5 separate regions of the Homo sapiens genome follow, and all the other regions are linked to region 3. Evidence: fine-mapped expression QTL. A gene starts in region 3. Each other region holds a variant in brackets. All regions are shown on one strand. Distances are from middle to middle.

Evidence for each region.
Region 1: its variant is fine-mapped to the expression of RAB38 in whole blood (INTERVAL, PIP 0.91).
Region 2: its variant is fine-mapped to the expression of RAB38 in unexposed skin (GTEx, PIP above 0.99).
Region 4: its variant is fine-mapped to the expression of RAB38 in whole blood (TOPMed, PIP above 0.99).
Region 5: its variant is fine-mapped to the expression of RAB38 in subcutaneous fat (GTEx, PIP 0.95).

What each region holds. Positions count from the first base shown.
Region 1 is chr11:88,319,018-88,323,970 of GRCh38, reverse strand. The region is part of intron 2 of CTSC (cathepsin C); the gene reads left to right. Among named protein-coding and RNA genes, the nearest start is that of CTSC, 16 kb to the left of the region's middle. The variant C/G (reference allele first, on the strand shown) is at 2,793.
Region 2 is chr11:88,195,882-88,200,834 of GRCh38, reverse strand. No RefSeq gene overlaps it. Among named protein-coding and RNA genes, the nearest start is that of MIR3166, 22 kb to the right of the region's middle. The variant G/T (reference allele first, on the strand shown) is at 2,744.
Region 3 is chr11:88,172,396-88,177,348 of GRCh38, reverse strand. It overlaps RAB38 (RAB38, member RAS oncogene family), which reads left to right and starts at 1,906. Exons shown (of 3, transcript NM_022337.3): 1 at 1,906-2,166. The coding sequence starts at 1,965. MIR3166 (microRNA 3166) reads right to left here and starts at 847; the gene lies at 756-847.
Region 4 is chr11:88,291,779-88,296,265 of GRCh38, reverse strand. CTSC (cathepsin C) reads left to right here. Exons shown (of 7, transcript NM_001814.6): 6 at 2-133; 7 at 1,758-2,674. The coding sequence ends at 2,260. Among named protein-coding and RNA genes, the nearest start is that of CTSC, 44 kb to the left of the region's middle. The variant C/T (reference allele first, on the strand shown) is at 2,014.
Region 5 is chr11:88,263,456-88,268,408 of GRCh38, reverse strand. No RefSeq gene overlaps it. Among named protein-coding and RNA genes, the nearest start is that of CTSC, 72 kb to the left of the region's middle. RefSeq lists an enhancer at 1,387-1,456. The variant A/G (reference allele first, on the strand shown) is at 2,625.

The DNA of each region.
Region 1 (4,953 bases), 150 kb before region 3:
TTGCTTAGGATTGTCTTGGCTATACGAGCTTTTTTTTGGTTCTATATGAATTTTAAAATAGTTTCTTCTAATTGTGTGAAGAATGTTAATGGTAGTTTAATGGGAATAGCATTGAATCTGTGAATTGCTTTGGGCAGTATGGCCATTTTCATGATATTGATTCTTCCTATCCATGAGCATGTAACGTTTTTCCCTTCGTTTGTGTCCTCTCTCATTTCCTTGAGTAGTGGTTTGTAGTTCTCCTTGAAGAGATCCTTCACTTCTTCTGTATTCCTAGATATTTTATTCTCTCTGTAGCTATTGGGAATGGGAGTTCATTCATGATTTTGCTCTCTGCTTGCCTTTTGTTGGTGTATAGGGATCCTGGTGACTTCTGCACATTGATTTTGTATCCTGAGACTTTACCGAAGTTGCTTATCAGCTTAAGAAGCTTTTGGGCTGAGATGATGGGGTTTTCTAGATATAGGATCATGTTATCTTCAAACAAAGACAATTTGACTTCCTCTCTTCCTATTTGAGTACGCTTTATTTCTTTCTCTTGCCTGATTGCCCTGGCCAGAACTCCCAATACTATATTGAATAAGAATGGTGAGAGAGGGCATCCTTGTCTTGTGCCAGTTTTCACGGGGAATGCTTCCAGCTTTTGCCCATTCAGTATGATATTATCTGTGGGTTTCTCATAAAAAGCTCTTATTATTTGAGATACGTTCCTTCAATACCTAGTTTATTGAGAGTTTTTAACATGAAGCGATGTTGAATTGTATCGAAGGCCTTTTCTGTGTCTATTGAGATAATCATGTGGTTTTTGTCTTTAGTTCTGTTTATGTGATGAATGACGTTTATTGATTTGCATATGTTGAACCGGCCTTGCATCCTGGGGATGAAGCCAACTTGACTGTGGTAGATAAGCTTTTGGATGTGCTGCTGGATTTGGTTTATCAGTATTTCATTGAGATTTTTTGCGTCGAAGTTCATCAGGGATATTGGACTGAAGTTTTCTTTTTGTTGTCGTATCTCTGCCAGGTTTTGGTATCAGGATGATGCTGGCCTCATAAAATGAGTTAGGGAGGAGTCCCTCCTTTTCAATTGTTTGGAATAGTTTCAGAAGAAAGGGTATCAGCTCCTCTTTGTACCTCTGGTAGAATTCAACTGTAAATCCATCTGGTCCTGGACTTTTTTTCATTAGTAGGCTATTTATTACTGCCTCACTTTCATAACTTGTTATTGATCTATTCAGGGATCCAACTTCTTCCTGATTCAGTCTTGGGAGTGTGTATGCATCCAGGAATTTATCCATTTCTTCTAGATTTTCTAGTTTCTTTGCATAGAGGTGTTTGTAGTATTTGCTGTTGGTTGTTTGTACTTCTGTGAGATCAGTGGTGGTATCCTGTTTATCATTTTTTATTGTGTCTGTTTGATTCTTCTCTTATTTTTGACAAAGCTGACAAAAAGAAGCAATAGGGAAAGGACTCTCTATTCAATTAATCCTACTGTATATCTGGCTAGCCATATGCAGAAAATTGAAACTGTTCCTGTTTCTTAATCCATATACGAAAATCAACTTACGATGGATTAAAGACTTAAATGTAAAACCCAAAATTATAAAACCCTGGAATAGAATATAGGCAATATCATTCTGGACATAGGAATGGGCAAAGATTTTATGAGAAAGACACCAAAAGCAATTACAACAAAAGCAAAAATTGGCAAATGAGATCTAATTAAACTAAAGAGCTCTGCACAGCAAAAGAAACTACTGTCAGAGTGAACAGGCAACCAACAGAATGGGAGAAAATTTTTTCAATCTATCCATATGACAAAGGTCTAACATCCAGAATCTACAAGGAACTTAACAAATTTACAAGAAAAAAGGAGCCCCATTAAAAAGTTGGCAAAGAACATGAACAGACACTTCCCAGAAGATATTCATGTGGCCAATAAACATGAAGAAAAGCTCAACATCACTGACCATTAGAGACGTGCATATCAAAATCACAATGAGATACCATCTCATGTCACAATGGTGATTATTAAAAAGTCAAACAACATGCTAGTGAGGTTGTAGAGAAATAAGAACGCTTTTACACTGTTGGTGGGAATGTCAACTAATTCAACCACTGTGGAAGACAGTGTGGTGATTCCTCAAGGATTTAGAACCAGAAATATCATTACTGCATATAGACCCAAAGGAATAGAAATCATTCTATTACAAAGATACATGCACATGTATGTTTATTACAGCACTATTCACAATAGCAAAGACATGGAATCAACCCAAATGCTCATCAGTGATAGACTGGAAAAAGAGAATGTGGAACATAAACACCATGGAATACTATGCAGCAATAAAAAGGAATGAGATCCTGTCCTTTTCAGGGACATGGATGGAGTTGGAAGCTGTTATCCTCAGCAAACTAATGCAGGAACAGAAAACCAACCACCACATGTTCTCACTTATAAGTGGGAGCTGAACAATAGAACACATGGGCACAGGGAGGGGAATAACACACACTGGGGCCAGTCAGGGGGTGGGGGGTCAAGCTGAGGGAGAGCATTAGAAAAAATAGCTAATGCATTCTGGGCTTAACCCATTTATGCCTAGTGTTCCATTTCTGGAATGCTAAGCATGTGGAAGTTCTTTATATCCTGCTCAAGGTCATTGCCAAGGTCTGATTTTTCACATTCAACAAATTGCAACCTCTGGCATAAATGGGTTAATACCTAGGTGATGAGTTGATAGGTGCAGGAAACCACCATGGCACATGTTTATCTATGTAAGAAACCTGCACATC[C/G]TACACATGTACCCTGGAACTTAAAAAATTTAAAATATATATGTATATATATTTAATATGGAATTTTAAAAATTACTAATGAGTTCTTTTATCTGAGTAATTTTGCATCAACATGCTTTTATTATGGAAGAGAAGATTCAGTGAGTACAAAATTGCAGATACATGTGTCAGAAGATCCCTGAATATAATAAGGCTTAGTATTCTGTGTCATAATTGCCTGTTTGTATTCCTCTCTGGTCTTTAAACTTCATTAGGGCAAGGATCAACTCCATCTTACTAACCATTTGATTCCCTATGTATTACACGATATATGACCAATAATAAGCCTTCAATAAATACTTGTAAAATAAAGAATGTTATGTAATATATCATGTGGTATTGTTTTATTGATGTGTTCTTTGAAGTGTTACCTTTGTGTCCTTAGAGGCTATGGTGGGCCCTCAGGCCATATATGTTGGATGATTTAGTGGAAAAGAGATTAGACTTTTATATTTTATTCTATTTATTTATTTATGTTTTAATCTTGTGTAAGCCTATAGAGGCCAAGATAGGGCTCAGAGTTAAAAACAGTGATGTTCTAACTTTCAAAACTACTAAAAACAAAATTAGCTATCAAGGGAAATCCTGAGTGTTCTGACTGCAGGGGTTCCCCAAAGCCTGGAGGACCGAAGCTTTGAAATGCTGCATGGTGTGCCTCACCTCTGTTGAGTATAGTGAGGAACATGAGCTGAGGAGTGGATTAGATGAACTCTTAAGATTTTTTTCCAACTTTACGGTTTGAGTTTATGAGTAAGTAAGTGAGGAATGAGCCCAGGGACTTTGACTACTTTGCTGTGCAGTAAATTGCTGTTTTCTTAGCTAATTCTGGAGTGTGTATTTTGGTTTTAATGTAATGTCCTTTCAGCACTGGAAATAAACAGATTTATGACCCTCCATTTTCACATGTAAACTTCCAGTTCCTTCAGTAAAATGCTGGAAGTTGCTTGGCTGTAACCACTGTAACTATTTCCTGGCAGTTTTGCATTTTATTACAATTCGACTTTTTAAATGCATGGTTCAGTCCAGTTAATAGGCAGAAAACTATAGCTATTCCTTGGAACTGACATAGGGAAGTTGGTTTCTTTCTGAGGAAAGATGTGACACTCTGATGGATTTGGCAAAATACCAATTCAGTAAAATTTGCCTGGTTCCTTTCTGACAGCAAATGGAGGTAATTGTACGTATATAGATTTCTACAGTAAACAAAGGGCAAAAATGGAAACATTTTTTGTTTTTTAATGTTGCTGGAATATAATATTTCCATATTTGGTTAATCATCAAATCATTCAACTCCATGCAAAGTACTCTTTTCAAAATTACAAATCATCTTGATGGATTAGACTTGGATGTCTAAATTTTTTATTATGTATTCTAAATTATCTATAGGTACATTTTGAAAATTATATATACATGTATCACTGTACTACATTTGTTATAAAATGTGAAATATTAAGCGATTAAATACTTTATTAATGTCATAAAATTGTGCCCTACCCAAAATATATTTTAAGAAGATATCATTTGAAAATAATGTAAAATATTCTTCATTATTATGATTTTGTTGCCAAAAGTAATGTTAGAGTCCCTGTTACTGATAATTTTCATGACTGTAAATTTTCAACATTTGGAAACAAAATTTTCTGATGTGTTTTAAAATCTTAAAGAATTTCAGTAGATTTTGACACATTTTTGTTAAAAGTATGAAAGTGTCACAGCTTTAGAAGGATTTAGAATAATTATCAATTGGTATTAGGGATGACAATTTTAATAGACAAATTTTAACTGAAACATTTGCTTTATTGATGTCTAGGACTAAAAAAAATATTATAGTGATGGAACCATTTCAAAACATCTGTTTTTAAAAACTTCTGTCAACATGTTTGACAGAAGTCAGAATAGGGTAATTATAAAAAAACTGCCATTTTCTTATGTTTGCATCATTAGTATTTGCAAATCCTTGTTTCTTTGCAAGTATATTTTAAACTACTTGTTCATTTTATGAGTGTTAGCCTGATTAATTCAGATAAGATGCTCAAGTCAGTTTAAGCAGGCAGATGTGAAAAAGGGAATATGCTGTGCCTTAACTATCTTATAGGGACTTACTAGCACACTGTACATAACA
Region 2 (4,953 bases), 23 kb before region 3:
TCTCTTTCTTCCAATGATTTGTCAGCAAAGCAACAAATAGTAGCAACACATATTCACATTGTGTATCTTTTCAATCACTTTTCCTAATGTTACAGGCTCATAGTCTACCTTCTACATTACTGAAGCATTTGCTTTATTAAATTATTTTTCTATTGTATAACATAGATCACTATTTTTTTCAGCATATTCTATTATTAATCCAACTATAACTAAACCAGTCCTATAAAGTTTAGGTTGTTCTTGAGGCATCATTCCACTTCTGGTATCAATATTTTAATGTAAGTCAGTAAAGTAATGTAATGGCTCAAACAGCATAACAATTTATTTCCCTTTTACATAAAGTTTAAATAGGTATTCATCATTGGCAGTGGCTTTCCTGCAACTGGCTTGAACCTGGGCTTGCCACGTACAGTTTCTAGGATTGTGGTGCCTTTCTTCATCAGTTTGCGGAAGGAGATAGCATCAAGAAACACACATAGGCTAGACGTGGAAGTAAACAAAATTTTGCCCACTGTCTCCTGGCCAGACTTTAGAGACATGCACAAATTTACCTATAAGGAAGGCTAGGAAATACATACAATCCAGTGGTGTCATCAGGAGAAAGAGCTAAAAATTTTAGTGTATAGCTATGCATTTTATACACAGAAGCCAATACTATGGAAGATAGAATAGGAAGACAGAAAAAACTGGATCTTTCTTGACTTCTTTGAGCTACTGGATCATGTTTCACCATATTGCTAGACTGAATATTTGCTAACATTCCTTTTATTGTTGAAGGTGATTTTAGTTGGAACTCTGCTACTTGCTATGCCAAATCTTATGATTAATGCAATTGCCAAATAAATTTCCCATTAATATCAACTAACAAACCAAACACCACCTGCTGCCTCCCTGTTATCTATTTGTATGATGCACAGTATGAATGTTTGATGGTTCAGTTGCCAATGAGTACCTGATAAAATATCAGGTCTGCATCCTGAGAGATTCAGCTTGGTCCAAGAGATGAGGCTTCAAAATACATGAGACAAATGTTTGGGAAGTCTAACTCCAAGTCTGAAAGAGACCTTGGAATCCATGTTTATTTGAGAGTAAATCTTGTAGTAGGAATGTGGTCTGTGATAATCCACTAAGGCCTCAGTATGTACTGCCACACTTTGAACTTTCCTAGAGCAGAAGAATTTCCACAAATTAGTCCCTGGTTTAAACTTGACTCTTGTTTTGTTTGTTCTTTCCATGTTAGAGATCATCTGAGCCTAAATCACACTTCTTGATGATAACAAGTCTGAACTCAGACCTTCAACTAAATTCAAAATGTTCTAAGCACTAACCATTGAACTAAATTCAAACCAGTCCTGGGTCAAAATAGAGCAAAATATAGTTCCCACCTTCTGATGTCTTCCTTATTTTATTTCCTTTCTAAGAACAAAAGGAAGCACATTTTACCATTTCTTTCTTCTGTTTTTGGGAATCATTCATTCATTCATTCCTTTAGTTAACAAATGTTTATTAGAAGTCTACCATGTAGCAGGCAATCTGAAATGAACTAGGAAAAAGCTAGATTAAGTTACTTCAATAAATCACAGGGAAAAGCTCATAGAACCTTTAGGCAATGTGTAGAATTATTGTATGATATCATGGGAAAAGCACAGGCTTTGAAGCCAGATACTACTGAGTTTAAACCTCAGTTCAATTTCTTACAGGTGATGTTAATTATGAAATTAAGCAATCCTTTTCTGATCTTCAATTTCATTTGTAAAATGGAGCTAATACTTATATTTCAGGATCAGGCTGATAGTTAAATGCTAGTAAAAATGCTTGACACAAAGTAGGAGTATAATGAATATTCCTTCCTTTCCTGTTTCCTTTCTTTCTTCCTTCTGTCTCACCTTCCCTCTCCTTTCTTGTGCCTTCTCTTCTTCCTTTCCTCTTTTCTGTTTTTCTTCTTTCTTTTCCAACATCCTAATTTTCTTTTTTCAGGTAAACATGCTAATTGACTAAATTCCCATCCTCCAAAATTGCATTAAAATCTCAACAGTACTCCTTAGCACAAATGCCCTAGATTATATGCCTTTTGAATACACTATTGATTGAACAATTTAATCACTTTGAATAATATAATCAGGAATATAAATAAAAATACATTTTATGAGATACGTACTTTCTTCTCTTCCTAAACTACTACACGGATAGTATCTTCTGATTCTAAAAGTAGCACATCAATGCACAATTTTGAATATGTCCATTGCCACTTTCCAGATATATCTTACAGGTATAACTCATGAAGAATATTTAGACATTCAAACTAATAAGCACAAAGGGTTGAACACTAAAAAGATGGTAGGAGAAAATATTTTAAACAAGATGCAGAAGAACATGAGAATTCAGTAAAGTCAGTAAACTTGTTTATTTATCTAATTGACCATTCTTGATTTGAAATACTACTGGTTTGATTTATTTCATTTTAGTAAGAACTATAGCAGATAAACTGGAAATAAATGGGTTTTTCTTGACTCAATTTGCTTTTATTCATCTTGAAATGCAGTATTCATTTTAGTGCCTTAAAAATTTAGTCTAGCCAGCAAAACCCTCCCCACAAACACCCTACCCCCACTGCCATCACCAACAGCGTGAGGATATGCAGGAACATTGCTACCCTGCTCCTGACAGTGCCCTGTATGTGTACCCTGCTGCATTGCCATGGCTATTGGCACACAAGATAAAGCATAGATCATGCTGCCACCAC[G/T]CTGATGAAGTGCTTTGGCCAGCACCATACATCAGCGTGTTATGGCCAGCAGGCCAAAATACCTCAGTTTCTGTAGCGCAGCAGTTTCCTAACATCAAGGGGCCAGAGAACAAAACTATCATCCCAGTACTACCACCCAGAGTTAGAGCACATAGCTCAGGAATGCCAAGCCGAGACTTGGCTCCCTAAAATCTTCCAGAAATGAAGCTAGTCAACTGAACCAATCTTATACTGCAATTCAATCTCCAAGGTCATCTAAGAAGACAAAAGCAAACAACCTCATCCAAGGGTCAGCAACTTCAATAACTGAAGGAACATTAGCCCACACAGATGAGAAGGAACCAGTTCAAGAACTTTGGCAACTCAAAAAGCCATCATGTCTTTTTACCTCCAAATGACTGTACTAGTCCCCAGCAATGTTTCTTAAACAGGCTGAAATGTCTGAAATGACAGACAAGGAATTCAAAATATGGGTAGGAACAAAGATCATTGAGATTCAGGGGGAAGTCAAAACCTAATCCAAGGAATCTAAGGAATGTAATAAAATGATATAGAAGCTGGATCATGAAATGGCCATTTTAACAAAGAATCAAATTGATCCAGCAGATTTGAAAAACTGACTTCAAGAATTTCATAATTCAAGTATAAACAGCAGAATAGACCAAGCTGAGGAAAGACTCTCAGATCTCAAAGACCAGTCCTCCAAATTAACTCATACTGACAAATACAAAGAAAAAAGAATAAAAAATAATGATCAAAACCTCTGAGAGATATGGGATTATGTAAAGGGGACACATCTATGACTCACTGATGTCCCTGGAAGAGAAAGAGAGAGAGAGCAAGCAACAGAAAAATCATATTAGAGGATATCGACCATAAAAATTTCCCCAATCCTCACTAGAGAGGCCATCATTCAAATTCAGGAAATGCAGAGAACCCCTACAAGGTACTATACCAGATGAACATCCCCAAGACAAATAGTGGTCAGATTCTCCAAAATCAAAATGCAAAAAAAAATTAAAGGCAGCTAGTGAGAAGAGGTAGGTCACCTACAAAGGGAATCCCCTCAGGCTAACAATGGACCCCTCAGCAAACACCCTACAGTCTAGAAGAGATTGGAAGCCTATACTAAGAATTTTTAAGGAAAAAAATTTTCAAACAAAAAACATAAGCAAAGCAGAAATAAGAACCTTTACAGATAAGCAAATGCTAAGAAAATTTGTTGCCACCTGACCTGCCTTACAAGAGATCCTTAAGGGCCTGCTAAACATGGAAAGGAAAGACCATTACTAGTCACCACAAAAGTATACTTAAGTACATAGATCTTTGATGCTATAAAGCAACTACATAATCAAGTCTGCATAATAATCAACTAACAACACAACAACAGGATCAAATCTGTACATATCAATACTAACTTTGAATGTAAATGGGCTAAATGCCCCAATTGTAAGACACATAGTGGAAAGCTGGATAAATATGTAAAACCCAACTGTTTGCTGTCTTCAAGAGACCCATCTCACATGCAATGATACCCATAGCCTCAAATTAATGGGATGGAGGAAAAATCTACCAAGCAAATGGAAAGCAGAAAAAAGCAGGTGTTGCTCTTCCATTTCAGACAAAACAGAACACAAACCAACAATCATTAAAAAAGACAAAGAAAGGCATTACCTAATGGTATAAGGTTCAATTCAACAAGAAAACCTAATTTTTCTAAATGCATGCACCCAATACAGGAGCACCCAGATTCATAAAACAAGTTGTTAGATACCTATGAAGAGACATAACCACAAAATAATAGTGGTAGACTTCAACAGCCCACTGACAGTATTAGACAGTTCATTGAGGCAGAAAACAAAGATGTTCAGGACCTGACCTCAATATTTGACTAAATGGACCTAACAAACCTCTCCACCCAAAAGCAATAGAATATATATTCTTCTCATCAGCACATGGCACATACTGTAATATTGACCACACAATCAGCCATAAAGCAATTCTCAGCAAATAGAAAAAATACCTCAAAATCATATTAATCACACTCTCAGACCACAGTGCAATAAAAATAGAAATCAGTACTAAGAAGATGGCTCAAAACCATACAATTACATAGAAATTAACCTGCTCTTGAATGACTTTTGGGTAAACAATAATATTAAGGCAGAAACCAAGAAATTCTTTGAAACTAATGAGGACAAAGATACAAC
Region 3 (4,953 bases):
CCACGCCCGGCTAATTTTTGTATTTTTAGTAGAGACGGGTTTCACCATGTTGGCCAGGCTGGTCTTGAACTCCTGACCTCAAGTGATTCACCCACCTCAGCCTCCCAAAGTGCTTGGATTACAATCATGAGCAACCATGCCCTGCCATAGGTATTATCATTCTCCTTTCGTTGATGTGGAAACCAAGGCTCAGAGGTTATGTGACTTGTCCCGGGTACACATCTTCAGCATCCCTCTGCTTGTTTGGGGCATGTGGAGGCTAAAGTTTAGGGAGTGTCAGGCCAGAAGAGGAAGGCAGAAAGACAATGGCCTTGCCAAACCTCCTTTCTCCCTTTCACACAGGCCTGTGTTTAAGTCCTAGTTCTAACACATACTAGTTATGTGTGCCCTTGAGAAAGCTGCTGTTAATCTTGGTTTCCTTATTTATAAATTGAAGAAAATAACCCACTTCATAAAGCAATTGAGAAGATGAAATGATAGAATGTGAGCAGAGCTCCTTCACAGCACATTCAGGTACAAAATAGCTCATTTTGGTATAAACTGCTCACCCCCTAGCCCTGAATGCCCAATTTCTCATTTTCTTTATGTCTTTACTAAATTGTCTCCATCTTACTGAAACCTTCCCTGGCCACCCTATCTAAAAGGCAAACCCCATATAATCTCTTCACATCCCCTTTCTGCCTTATTTTATTACCAATTAATATATGACAAATTGTATTTATTTTGTCTTGTCCTGTCTCCACCCACAAGAAGGTAAATTTTTCTTAGGCCAGTAGGCATTGTCTGCGTTAGGAGGATGATACAGAAATCCTAACGCAGACAATGCCTACTGGCCTCAAAAAAATTTACCTTCTTGTAGGTGGAGACAGACAAGACAAAATAAGTACAATTTGTCATATATTAATTGGTAATAAAATGTATATTGGTCAAATGAATGAAAACAAACAACAAAAACAACAAAAAGAAGTTGGGAACCTAAAGACCTATGTTTGAATTTGGTTTTTTTCCTTACTATTTGACTCTGGGTCCATTACTTAAAATGTCTGGTCCTTAGCTTCCTCATTTGTAAAATAGGAAGAAAAATGGTATCTATTATTAAGACAGCTGGGATGACTAAATGACATAATTTATAAACCCTCTGGCATATAGCGAGTGCTCAATAAATGTTTGCCATTATTATTATTTGTAATAATCTGACCGATTGTTAAAACTGTCTTTCTGTGCAGCTCTGAGTTTTTAGGATATGGGAAGAGGCTAAAAGTCACCAGTGCCCTTGGCATTTTCGGCCCAGTTGTCCTCCTTGTTAACTGATTACCAGTTGAATGGGTGTGAAAGTGCTCAGTGTTCCCACCTCCAAGCTGCTCAGAGGTCAGCATTGCCATTCATTGAGAAATAACAGGCTGTGAGAGCTCAAATGACTTACTTATGGTCCCTCAACTTAAAAACCAGGGCACGCAGGAACCAAGCCCAGCCAGTCTTGGGCTTCCTAATACTGTAATTTCTCTCTACAGTGTGGGGTAGTTAAGAGCCTGTGACTTCAGACCTGTGGTCAACGGGGCCTTTCACCGGCCATCTCCCGCAGAGTACTTTTTCACAATCAGTTTTCTCGCAAGCAAAACGTGGAAAATAAGATCCACACCTCACAAGTTTGTGGCCAGGGTCACAGGTGAAAACAGCTCTTCGGAAACTCTAAAGCGCCGGATAAATAAGCGCTGCAACAGGCAACCACACGCGAACCCCTTTCAGCTGCCAGTCCCGGGACTCGCTCCTGTCTCCTCCCCTCTCCAAGACCGCGGAGTAGGAAGGAGGATTAACCCCTAGGGGAGGAGTTCCGCCCCCCAGCCCCCGCCCCGCCGCCCACGCCTCTCTCTGCACCTACACTTGCGCTCCCCAAGTCTCTCTCGTGCGCAGAGCCCAGGCTGCGCTTCCCTGGTCAGGCACGGCACGTCTGGCCGGCCGCCAGGATGCAGGCCCCGCACAAGGAGCACCTGTACAAGTTGCTGGTGATTGGCGACCTGGGCGTGGGGAAGACCAGTATCATCAAGCGCTACGTGCACCAGAACTTCTCTTCGCACTACCGGGCCACAATCGGCGTGGACTTCGCGCTCAAGGTGCTCCACTGGGACCCGGAGACTGTGGTGCGCCTGCAGCTCTGGGATATCGCAGGTGAGCGCGGGGGGAGGGGGTCAGGGGGATAGAGCGCCTCGCGGCCGGTTTCCAGTCTCGAGGCAGCGGCTTGCGGCCAAGCGTGAGATTAAAATCACTAGGTCGCGAGGCAGTTTTTCCTGGTGGGCTGGAAACTTAGTTTCAAAGAAAAGAAAAACGTCTGAAACTTCAAGTGCATTCCCTGGCGCTTTTGGGCTATTGCTTTAGCTCCTTCCCGCACAGTCCCCTGGGATCTCTCTGCCCAGAGCAGGCCTCCCCAGGGAACCAGAGGAAGATTGTCTGCAATTGCATTCTGTTCTCCACTCCAGCTCGTTTTCTGGGCGCGGGCAGTTCTGCCAATGACGCAGCCCAGTGTCACGCACGTCCTTCCGTGCAGGGGCGGACCGAGGGGAAGCCCCTAGGCTGGTTCACAGAGGAAACCGGGATAGTTCCAGGCTAGCTGGAGTTTGCCCATTCCTGTCTTCAGTGGCTCACTTTATTTCAAATTTTGTCACCTTTCTCTCTGCCCTTAAGACAAAGGAGTTTGAGGGTTTTTGTTTTGTTTTTTTTTTTTTTTTTTTTTGCTTTTTGCTTACAGTAAGCCAAGTACTTTTGTGTGTATATGTCAGGGGCAAAGTATTCTTTCTCCCTCTCTTTCTGTATTTCTATCTCTCTGGCTCTCTGTCTTCTATGAAAAGGAGGTTGTGTGTATATTTTAAGGCCATTTTTATGTAAGGGCCTATGATAGCCTTATGATTTCTTGATTTGGCCCTAAAGTTTTCATTGAGAGATCTGAAAAATGAGAGGTTGTTTGTTTTTGTTTTTTACAATATTTAAAATCAGATTTTGACTCCACAGGTTTGTACCAGAAGTTAGGCCTAGTCAAAAGTGAGGGTGCAATGTATCTACTCCAAGTGTGAATCCTTGGACAAGGCTGTTTGCAACCTGCGCATGACCAACCCCTCATTACAGATTTTAGCCCTGCCACTAACTAACCTGCTCAGTGGCTTTGGACAAGTCTCTTCAGCTCAGTTGCATCGCTGTTAAGTGGAAAGGAGTTGGGCAAGGGTCAAGGATCTTCCTGCTCAGAAGTTTTAAAGTCCTCTGGGATTCTCCATGGGAACAACTTCAAACAGTCTTATTTCATGGTCTGTGACACCAGGAACCTTTCGTTATAAGTGCTGGACCCAAACTAGCCACTTCTGTTTCAGAAAATGGATTCATTTTAGCTGATGCATTTGATTGGAAACTCTTTATCATGGCTTGAAACTAGAACAAATGTGGAAAATTTTTGAAAGGGCATTTGTGATCTGGGGACTTTCGTGCCTCTTTAATCATGAACTGCCAGGCCTTTTTCTTTTAGCATGTGAACAGATGAACAGATTCATGCATTTGGAGTCATCTTCAGCTGCTCTAGTAGCAAGGGGGTTATCAGAGAACAGAAAATGTTATCAGCCACTGTTGGATGGGGCTTTTCATCTAAAAAAATTCTCTCTGTGTACTTTCTTGCTGCATGTCATAATGTCTGAAAACCCTTCTGGCTGCTCGAAAGTCCTCAGGATTCAGATTTAGAAACGGCTTACTGTTTAAACGGGGATGTAGCTGTAATTTGGACTTCTGTGTACAATCCAGGTAACAGCATGACAGCAGAGAAGTTCTATGTCTGTAGATTTCAGTCTCCTCACATAAACAGAAGAGATGGAAGGGTACAGTGATTAATAGCCCAAATTCCAGAGTTGAACTGCCTCCATCTGGATCCTTACTTTACTCTGCATGTAGTAGGCAATCTTAGGTAAGTTCTCTAACCTCCTTGTTTTGGTTTCCTTACTTGTAAACAGGGAGAATGCTTTCTCCCAATAGATGACAGGTGAGCAACCAACAGTGCTAGCTGAAGGTGATCATGCCTGTTCTCTAGGAGATCTGCAAGGATTATTATCACACTAGCTACCATTTTTTTAAGCCTATATAAATGCTAGGCAAGAAGGATATGATATACAAGTGCTTATTAATTCCTAATAAATTGTGATCCCAATATTACATATATATTTTGTCCCCAAGTTATCACCATTTTCAGCTTTGCTCCTGACATACTCTCAGGAGCAATTTAACTCCCAAGCTCGAAAGCACTTCGTTAGCCATGTTTTGTAGACTGAAGTTGCAGTGGAGGCTGTAGTCACAGAAGTCTGTATAAATAAGAAATCTGAAGTCTTGGGAAGTTCATTCTACAGATACTGCGGTGGTGTTACATTCAACATCTCAGTAGAGGAGCTTGTTTTTCCCAGAGCTCTAATGCTCAGTGGTAACCTGTCTTTAGCAGCCTTAAGCCCAAAGGCCCTGTTAGCTGAATTATAGATTGGACAGCAGGCACAGTGAATTGGGTGAAAGCTAGGCCACTGTAGGAAATGGTTGGAACATGCACGTGCTCCATGTTTCATGGTTTAAGCTGCATAGGGAGCCATGTGGGTTATGAGTTCATGTGAAATACAACCTCAACTGCCCACCCAGACTCCAGTCAGCCAGGTGTACCTTATAGTACTTTCAAATCACAGCCTGTCTGTCCACAGATAAGAATGCATCTCTCCGTCCTTAGTGTTCAACTCTGGTGTGTCCCCGGAGAGAGCAGGTAGTGGAGGTTAGTGGGCCTAGCTTTGAGAAGGTTGTGGGTGTTCAATGAGATAGAGAAGACCTGCACTGTTCTGATAGGATATCATATACATTTGTTATTAAGGGAATCTTGGCTCAGCTAGACTCTTGATACTCATTTGGTTCAATGCCAAATAGGGCCCTTTTTAATCTACTAAATTCCCA
Region 4 (4,487 bases), 120 kb before region 3:
GCATCCTGTGGCAGCTGCTACTCATTTGCTTCTATGGGTATGCTAGAAGCGAGAATCCGTATACTAACCAACAATTCTCAGACCCCAATCCTAAGCCCTCAGGAGGTTGTGTCTTGTAGCCAGTATGCTCAAGGTAAGTGTTGCATTTCAGACACCATTTATGAGCTATTTACCTGTGTGCAGCTGGCTGTTGTTGGCAAAGGCAAAAGGATGATGCAGTAGAGAGAGCGCAGTGTCTATAGTCAGAAAATCTGAGTGCAAGTCTGGCCCTATCACTTATTAATGGATGATTGCTCATGGAATTTACTGTACCATCCAGCAAAATGTCAATAGTTACTATATATTGAGTGAGCTCTGCTTGTTACATATATTGCCTAACAATGCTCAAAACTCTGAGAAGTAGTAAGTATAATCCCTATTTATGGGCGGGGAACAGGAACTAAGAAATTTTTCTAATAATTTGAAGGTCTCACAGCTTTTAGCATTGGAGTTTCACTTCTAATCATCGTCTCCAAAACCCAACTTTTATTAAAACTATACTAACACTGGTTTCTCTCTGGGAGAATTTTAAAATTCTGTACTTAGGGCTGGGCACAGTGGCTTATGCCTATAACCCTATCACTTTGGGAGGCTGAGATGGGTGAATCTCTTGAGTCCTAGAGTTTGAGACCAGCCTGGGCAACACGGCGAAACCCCTTCTCTATTAAAAATACAAAAAATTAGCTGGGCGTGGTGGTGTGTGCTTGTAGTCCCAGCTATTCAGGAGGCGGAGGTGTAAGAATCACCTGAGCCCAGGAGGTCAAGGCTGCAGTGAGCCGATATCATGCCACTGCACTCCAGCCTGGGCAAACGGAGTGAGGCCCTGTTATGAAAAAAAAAAAATCTGTACTTAGGCTTTCAGATCAGGCTGTATGTGATGTATGTCGAAAACACAGCTATAATTGATTGAGGGAGAAACGTTACCATTTTAAAGTTTATGCTTTCAAGCCCAGATTTGGCCACTAGGAATTTCCCAGCTCACTAGTGAAACTGCTGATGAGTGATTATTTGCCAGTGAGCCTTTCATTCTTTCTAAAATATGTACTACTAGTTGTGACTTGTAGGCTATAGGGGCTATAATATATCAAGACAATCTTTATCCTCATGAAGCTTACAGTTAAGTAAGAGATAGAGATTAAATAATTATAACAACAGAGTGAAGAACAGTGAAGAAAAAGTACAGAGTTATAATATATATAATAGGGCCAGGACTGCATGAGGAAGGTAGGAAAGACATTTCGGCAAGAGGTTGTCAGGGAAAAGACTTGCTTGAGAAAGAGCCAAGTTGTGGGGTCTGGCTGCTTAGCAATGACCATAATACCTAACTTTTGCTATTTTTACATGAAGTAACTAATTTAACCCTATGAGGAAAGTACTACTACCATCTAGATTTTACAGGTAAGTAAGCAGAGATACAGAGAAGTTAAACTCTTCACACGGCTTTGGCTTTAAACCTATATAGGCTTCAGAGCCTCCCCACTTAACCACTTTGCCATAGCTACATCCATATTAGGTGCTAAGTAGATATCTGTTAAGTAGAAGGAGGATGAAAGGATAGTTAGCTAGTTGGAAAATGGATGGATGAATGAAGTGATGCTTAAGCTAAGAACAACTTTCAGGGGTAACATGCAAAGAATAATGGAGCAAAGAAGAAAAAATAGAAAATGGGATAATCCTTTTTCTACTAAGGGGTAACCATGTGTGTTATTCATCTTCAGGCTGTGAAGGCGGCTTCCCATACCTTATTGCAGGAAAGTACGCCCAAGATTTTGGGCTGGTGGAAGAAGCTTGCTTCCCCTACACAGGCACTGATTCTCCATGCAAAATGAAGGAAGACTGCTTTCGTTATTACTCCTCTGAGTACCACTATGTAGGAGGTTTCTATGGAGGCTGCAATGAAGCCCTGATGAAGCTTGAGTTGGTCCATCATGGGCCCATGGCAGTTGCTTTTGAAGTATATGATGACTTCCTCCA[C/T]TACAAAAAGGGGATCTACCACCACACTGGTCTAAGAGACCCTTTCAACCCCTTTGAGCTGACTAATCATGCTGTTCTGCTTGTGGGCTATGGCACTGACTCAGCCTCTGGGATGGATTACTGGATTGTTAAAAACAGCTGGGGCACCGGCTGGGGTGAGAATGGCTACTTCCGGATCCGCAGAGGAACTGATGAGTGTGCAATTGAGAGCATAGCAGTGGCAGCCACACCAATTCCTAAATTGTAGGGTATGCCTTCCAGTATTTCATAATGATCTGCATCAGTTGTAAAGGGGAATTGGTATATTCACAGACTGTAGACTTTCAGCAGCAATCTCAGAAGCTTACAAATAGATTTCCATGAAGATATTTGTCTTCAGAATTAAAACTGCCCTTAATTTTAATATACCTTTCAATCGGCCACTGGCCATTTTTTTCTAAGTATTCAATTAAGTGGGAATTTTCTGGAAGATGGTCAGCTATGAAGTAATAGAGTTTGCTTAATCATTTGTAATTCAAACATGCTATATTTTTTAAAATCAATGTGAAAACATAGACTTATTTTTAAATTGTACCAATCACAAGAAAATAATGGCAATAATTATCAAAACTTTTAAAATAGATGCTCATATTTTTAAAATAAAGTTTTAAAAATAACTGCATTATGGAGTTTATGTTTACTTCAGGGAATTTTTATCACTGACTCAGTAAGATTCACTTATGTTACCTATGTAAGCATTTATTTAAGAAGGAAAAGCATTTGAAGATATTTCAATTAAAAACAAAACTATGAACCTTTATGACAGGGAGATATACTCAGATAATGCCTAGTGAATCCTAAAATTATCCTTGGATGTTTGATGAGTCTGAGACCTCAGAGAAAAGAAATAAGAGTTTTGACAAAATCTGGATATTGGTGAATTTATTTTCTATGGTGTGTATCTTGTATTTGGGAGTATTGCTTAGTCTTCAGTAGGTGAGCAATAATAGCTTAATGAGTGAAATACTAGCAGCTTAGATTTAAATAGATTTTTGGAATCTCCCAGAGATATTTCACAGTGGATATGAAACCTCTATGCTAAGTAACATATGCCTTCTCTTAGAAATTATGTAACAGGAGAATAAGGCAGTCAGAGCTCTGAAACATAAACACGGACCACAGCCTTTTCAAGCTGGAAAGGACCATAAAGATCATGTAATTTAAACTCTTTGCACAGATAGAGACTCAACTTAGAGGGCAAGAGATGTGTCCAAGGTCACACAGCTGGCAAGTGATGGAGTCATGCTTAAAACTTAGATCTTCGAAACCGAGTTCTCTTTGAGCACCTTCGAGCACTGAATCTCAGCATTTCCCACCAGAGTATCTGCAATCACCAGGGATACTAGCTGCATGCTTGGAAATTTCACCTTAACATTCTGAGTTTCAGAGTTTTGTGCAAAACCCACGTATTTTCTGCATTAAAATTCACTATAATGATGTTTTTACCCTCCTTGAACTGCAGTAGGGCTCCAGGAGTATGCACCATTTAAAGTTTGGCTTCCTGGACCTCCTGGCATGCTGCCACATACCTTTGATCTTTTCACCACATGGTGGCACAGAAACAGCACTGGAAGGCATAGCCAGGGTCGGAATCATTGGAAGGCCTCCAAGGAGATGAGATACATTTTCTTTTTATTGTTACTGATTGAATGTAATTTCCATCCTATTTTGTGCCCAGCCTCACTGCTATGTGAACATATAAACAGACCTTTGAAATCAAGCATAAGTTTTTTTTCACTAAAATTCATGAAGATACTATCTGTCAGTTTAACAAACACAATTCTATTTAACATGTAAGCATGAATTTATTCTCTAGTTTTCCAGTTGGACAGCAGTCGGCTGACACATGAGAACAACTCATCATGATGTAGAGTGCCTGTGATTTTGCACTATTTCATGAGGGCCCTGACTGGCTCTTAAGTAAATTCATTGCTGGTGTCATTCATTAAATACTTTAGGAAATATTAAATGGCTAAATACTGGTGTGAACCTAACTGGCATGGAAGTCAGATTATACAACATGTTTGCTTGAGGACAAGCAATGATTTGAAGAGGCCCTAAGTTTTCAGAGATTATGAGGGATTGCCCAGAATAAGAACTTAAGATAGACTACATTTCAACTTGGATTTATCTACTGTCGAAGTCTGCTTTTCCTGTTTCTGTATGACAGAAAGATCATTTATATCATCCATGTTGCAGATTTCATCAAATACAGTGACTAAATGGAACATTAGGGTTCCACAAACCATGCGATTAGACTGTTAAGCTGTACAAAAAGCAGTTGGTGTCAGTATCTAGAACTTTTTATATTGATGCTAATAGAACACATACTCGGAGTCTTTTAACAAATGGAGCTCTAGAAAAAAAAATCAGATGGGAACTCTGGCTAACCTCCCCAAAGACATTCCCAGAAAATCTACAAGGATTATCTACAT
Region 5 (4,953 bases), 91 kb before region 3:
CTTTCTACCCTGATCTCTCCTTCTCCCTCCTCTTTAAGGCTAATAACTCATAGGTTTGCCCTTTTCAGTCTACTTTCTAGAACTTATAGTGTGCTTCATTCTTTTTTATTATTTTTCTTTTTTCTCCTCTGTGTATTTTCAAATAGCCTGTCTTCAAGCTCACTGAATCTTTCTTCTGCTTGATTAATTCTGTTCTTAAAAGACTGATGCATTCTTTAGTATGTCAGTTGCATTTTTTAGCTCCAGAATTTCTCCTTGATTTTTAAAAATTATTTCAATCTCTTTGCTAAATTTATCTGATAGGATTCTGAATTCCTTCTCTGTGTTATCTTGAACTTTGTTGATCTTCCTCAAAACAGCCATTTTGAATTCTCTGTCTGAAACGTCACATGTCTCTGTTACTCTGGGAATAGTCACTGGTGTCTTATTTAGTTCATTTAGTGAGGCCATATTTTACTGGATTTTTTTTTTCTTTATTTTTTTGAGATGGAGTCTCGCTCTGTTGCCCAGGCTGGAGCGCAGTGGTGCAATCTTGGCTCACTGCAGCCTCTGCCTCCCGGGTTCAAGCAATTCTCTTGCCCTAGCCTCCTGAGTAGCTGGGATTACAGGCATGAGCCACCGCACGTGGCCAGAGATAGGTACTTATTGTAGTCTTTTCAGTCTGGGCTTCTTTGTACCCAACCTTATTGGGAAGGCTTTACAAGTACTCAAAGATAGTTGAATGTTATGATCTACATCTTTGGTCATTGCAGCTGTATCTGTACCTGAAGATAAGGCTGTAGTATTAGGGAGTACCTGAAGCCCAATAATACTGTGACTCCTGTGTGTTCATAGACATATTAACTTGGATCTTGGGTAAAATCCAGAGGAATTCCCTAGACTACCAGGCAGAGACTCTTGTTCTTTTCCCTTAGTTTCCCCCAAACAAAGAGTCTCTGTACTGAGCTACCTGGAGCTTGAGGAGGGGTGACACAAGCACCCCTGTGTCCACCACCACTGGAATTGCACTAGGTAAGACCCAAAGCCAGCACAGCGCTGGGTGTCTTAACTTCCTGGCCACTGCCAATGTTCACTCAAGGCCCAAGCGCTCTTCAATCAACTGGTGGCAAATCCAGCGAGACTTGTGGCATTTCCCTTAGCATAGTGAGATCCCCCTGTCCACCAGGGCCTGGATTCAAGAATCTTAGGAATATAGTTGGTGCTCTATTGTGCTGTGGCTAAGCTGACAGCCAAGCCACAAGACAAAGTCCTTCCACTCTTTTCTTTCACTTCCTCATGCAGAAAGAGTTTCTCCCCATGGCCACCACTGCCCCAGGCCTGCAGCAGGTGCTGCCTGGGTACTGCCAGTGTTGACTCAAGACCCAAGGCCTCTTCCATCAGATTGTGAATGCTTCCAGGCCTAAGTCCCTCTCTACAGAACAGTTGTCTTTCTTTTGGCCCAGAATGGGTCCAGAAACACTGTCCAGGAGCCAAGTCCTGGAATTGGTGACCCCAGGAAGCCACTTGATACTCTACCCGACTGTAGCTGAGGTGGTATCCAAGCTTAAGAACAAAGTCCCCTTTACTCTTTCCTCTCCTTTCCTCAAGCAGAAGGAAAGGATTCTCTCCTCATGGCCACCACAGCTGGGAATGTACTGGGTCACACCTAAAGTCAGCACAGCCCCAGGTCTCATCCAAGGCCTGCAGTGAGTATATCTGGCTAATATTGATGTTTATTCAAGGACAAAAGGCTCTTTTCATTAGCAGTTAATGAATTCTGCCTGGGTCCTTCTCTTCATGGAAGGTCCCAGAAGGACTGGGTCCTTCTCTTCATGGAAGCAGGTGCCCTTTTGACCAAGGGTATGTCTAGAAATACTGTCTGGGAGCTAGGGTCTGAAATGGGAGCCTCATAACTCTACCTCATGCCTTATTCTACTCTGGCTGAGTTGGTATCCAATTTACAAGACAAAGTCCTCTTCACTCTCTCCTCTCCTCTCCTCTCAAGGGTAAGGAAGGAGTCTCCCAGAGCTGTGAGCTGTTCTGTCTGTGGTTGGGGTAGAGGAAATGCAAGTACTCCCTTGGCTGCTCTAACTGGTGTCTTGCTAGGTTACATACACACCAAGTTCACTCACTCTGAGTACAGCATAGCAAAAAGATTTGTCCAGGATTTGAAGCCCTTGTGGTCTAGCTTGCCTTTCAAGTTTACTTAGAACCCCAGAGCACTTTGGCTTTTGGTGTAGGTCTTGCTGAAACTCAGGTTTCCACTGCTGTGTTGGATAATTCCACTCTGGCTAATGCTGGTCTAAATGCTCTCTCTATGGATGCTGGCTGAATGTTTCTTTCTGCTGCAACAGGGCAACACTGAGTTCCAGTGCTAAGTCCCACAATCATTCTGCTCTCCCTACTCTGAGCACACAGATTCTCTCTTCATGCCACACAGCTGCTGCCAGTGTATGAAGGAGGAGTGGTGTCAGCAATTCAAGATTGCCTTTCCCACCTTCTTCAGTGCCTCTTTCCTTGATATGATGTTAAAACTAGGTACTGTGATTGCTTATCTGATTTTTGGTTCTTATGATGGTGATTTCTTTTATGGATAGTTGTTCAATGTGGTGTTCCTGCAGGGAGGATGAACGCTAGAGGGTTCT[A/G]TTTGGCCATCTTCCTTCACCTCATCACCCTGATTATCCAACTTTGTTCTTTTAAAAAATTGTTTTGGTTCTTGTAACATGAATTTACACTTTAGAAACAATGAGATAATATATACAGAAAATTCTTCTGGGATTTGGATTGGAAAGGCATTAAATTTATCTATTTGTTTGAAAAAATTACAATTTTGCACATAGACACATTTTAGTCATTAACATGGTTTATCTCTTCACTTATCTAGATGTTCTTTAATTTCTCTCTGCAATATTTTGTAACTTTTATTGTACATATTTTGCCCAGTTTTGTCAGATTTATTATGAAGTATTTAATGTTATTTTATACAATTGTATGTGATCTTTTAAATTTCAGTTTCCAATCATTTATAGCTAGTAGATGAGAATATAATTTATATACTTACCTTGAATCCTGCAACCTTGGTAAAATCACTTTTTCTAGTAGCTTTTTTTGTAGATTTCATAGGTTTTGTACATGTTGCACAGAAGACAGTTTTACTTCTTGTTTTCCAGTTTTGATGCCTCTTATTTCTTTTTCTTGCACAGTGCCCTGCCTAGAAGCTCCTGTACAACATTGTGTAGAACTGATAAGACCCAAGATTCTTGCTCTTCTTCCTTATTTTGGTGAAAAGCATCCAGTCTTTCATTATTAACTATTAAGTTAGTTGTAACTTTTTGATAGATAAACTGTCATGTTAGAGTAAAAATGTTAGCACTGAAATTATTTAAATACAGAACTAAAGTTAAACACAGAAGCAGTACTGTTACAGCACATTTTTAAATTTTATTGATATAATTTGGAAATTTGTCCCCACCCAAATCTCATGTTGAAATGTAATCTCAGGGGTGGCCAACATGGCTGACTAGAAGCAGCTAGTGTGTGTGGTGCTCATGGAGAGGAATGGAAGGGGTGAGTAAACATAGCATGTTCACCTGAAACATACAGGTACATACCTTGAGACCAAATGAGGAAACAGTTTGGTCCATGGAGAGTGAAGAAAAGCAAGGCAGGATAATGGCCCATCCAGGAACGACACAGAGCCAAGGGAACCTCCTGCACCCAGGGAAGTGGTGAGTGAATGTGCGATCCTGGGAATTTATGCTTCCCTTATGGATCATTACAACCCTTGGGTCAGGAAATCCACTTGTGAACTCACTCAGCCAGGATCTTCTGTCTGTCACATAGAGCTACGTGGAATGTCAGCAGAGAAGCTGCTCAGGAACACACAAATATCCGGGAGCCTTAGATACCTGGGCTTTCCAGGCTTTCCAGCAAAAGTAGCTGCAACTCTGGCAAAACAGGAGGTTATACCCCCTTACCTATCCCTTGGAGAGGCGCTGAATTCAAGGGGCTGAGCCAAAATAGTCTGCAGGCTCCACTCCATGGCACCTCACAGGGTAAGACTCACTGGCTTAGAATTTCTGTCAGCCACCAGTAGTAGCGTCGAACCTCCCTGATATGGAGCTCCCAGGGAGAGGGGCTAGCTGCTATCTTTGCCGTTTTGTCAATTTAGCCATTCCAGCCTTTGGGCTTTGGAGAATCCAAGCCAACTGTGGGTGGAAGCAATCCCCCAGCACAGCACAGCTGCTCTACAAAAAGGGGCTAGAATGCTTTTATTTATGTATTTATTTATTTTTTTGAGACGGACTCTGGCTCTGTCACCCAGACTGGAGTGCAGTGGCACCATCTTGGCTCACTGCAAGCTCTGCCTCACGGGTTCACGCCATTCTCCTGCCTCAGCCTCCGGAGTAGCTGGGACTTAAGGCACCTGCCACCACGCCTGGCTAATTTTTTTCTATTTTTAGCAGAGACGGGGTTTCACTGTGTTAGCCAGGATGGTCTCCATCTCCTGACCTCGTGATCCACCCACTTCGGCCTCCCAAAGTGCTGGGATTAAAGGCTTGAGTAGAATGCTTTTTTAAGTGGTTCACCTATCCCATTGTTTCTCATGTGTCAGGACCTTCCAGTTGGAATCTCCAGCCACCCCCAGTAGCTGACAGAGATTTAAAATCTCCCTGAAATGGATCTCCCAGAGGTAGAGCCAGGCCGCCATCTTTGCTGTTTGGGCAACTTAGTTATTTCCAGTCTTTGGGCTTTGGAAAGTACAAGCCAACTGGAGGTGGAAGCAGTCACCCAGCAGAGCGTAGCTGCTCTACAAAAACCTGGTCAGAGTGCTTTTAAAAGCAGGTCCCCAATCCCGTTCCTCCTCACTGGGCGGGACCTCCAAACTGGGGTCTCCAGCCAGTCTGTCTGGTGCTGTCTGGCTGATGGAGATTTGAAACCTCACTAGGACAGAGCTCCCAGAGGGAGGGACAG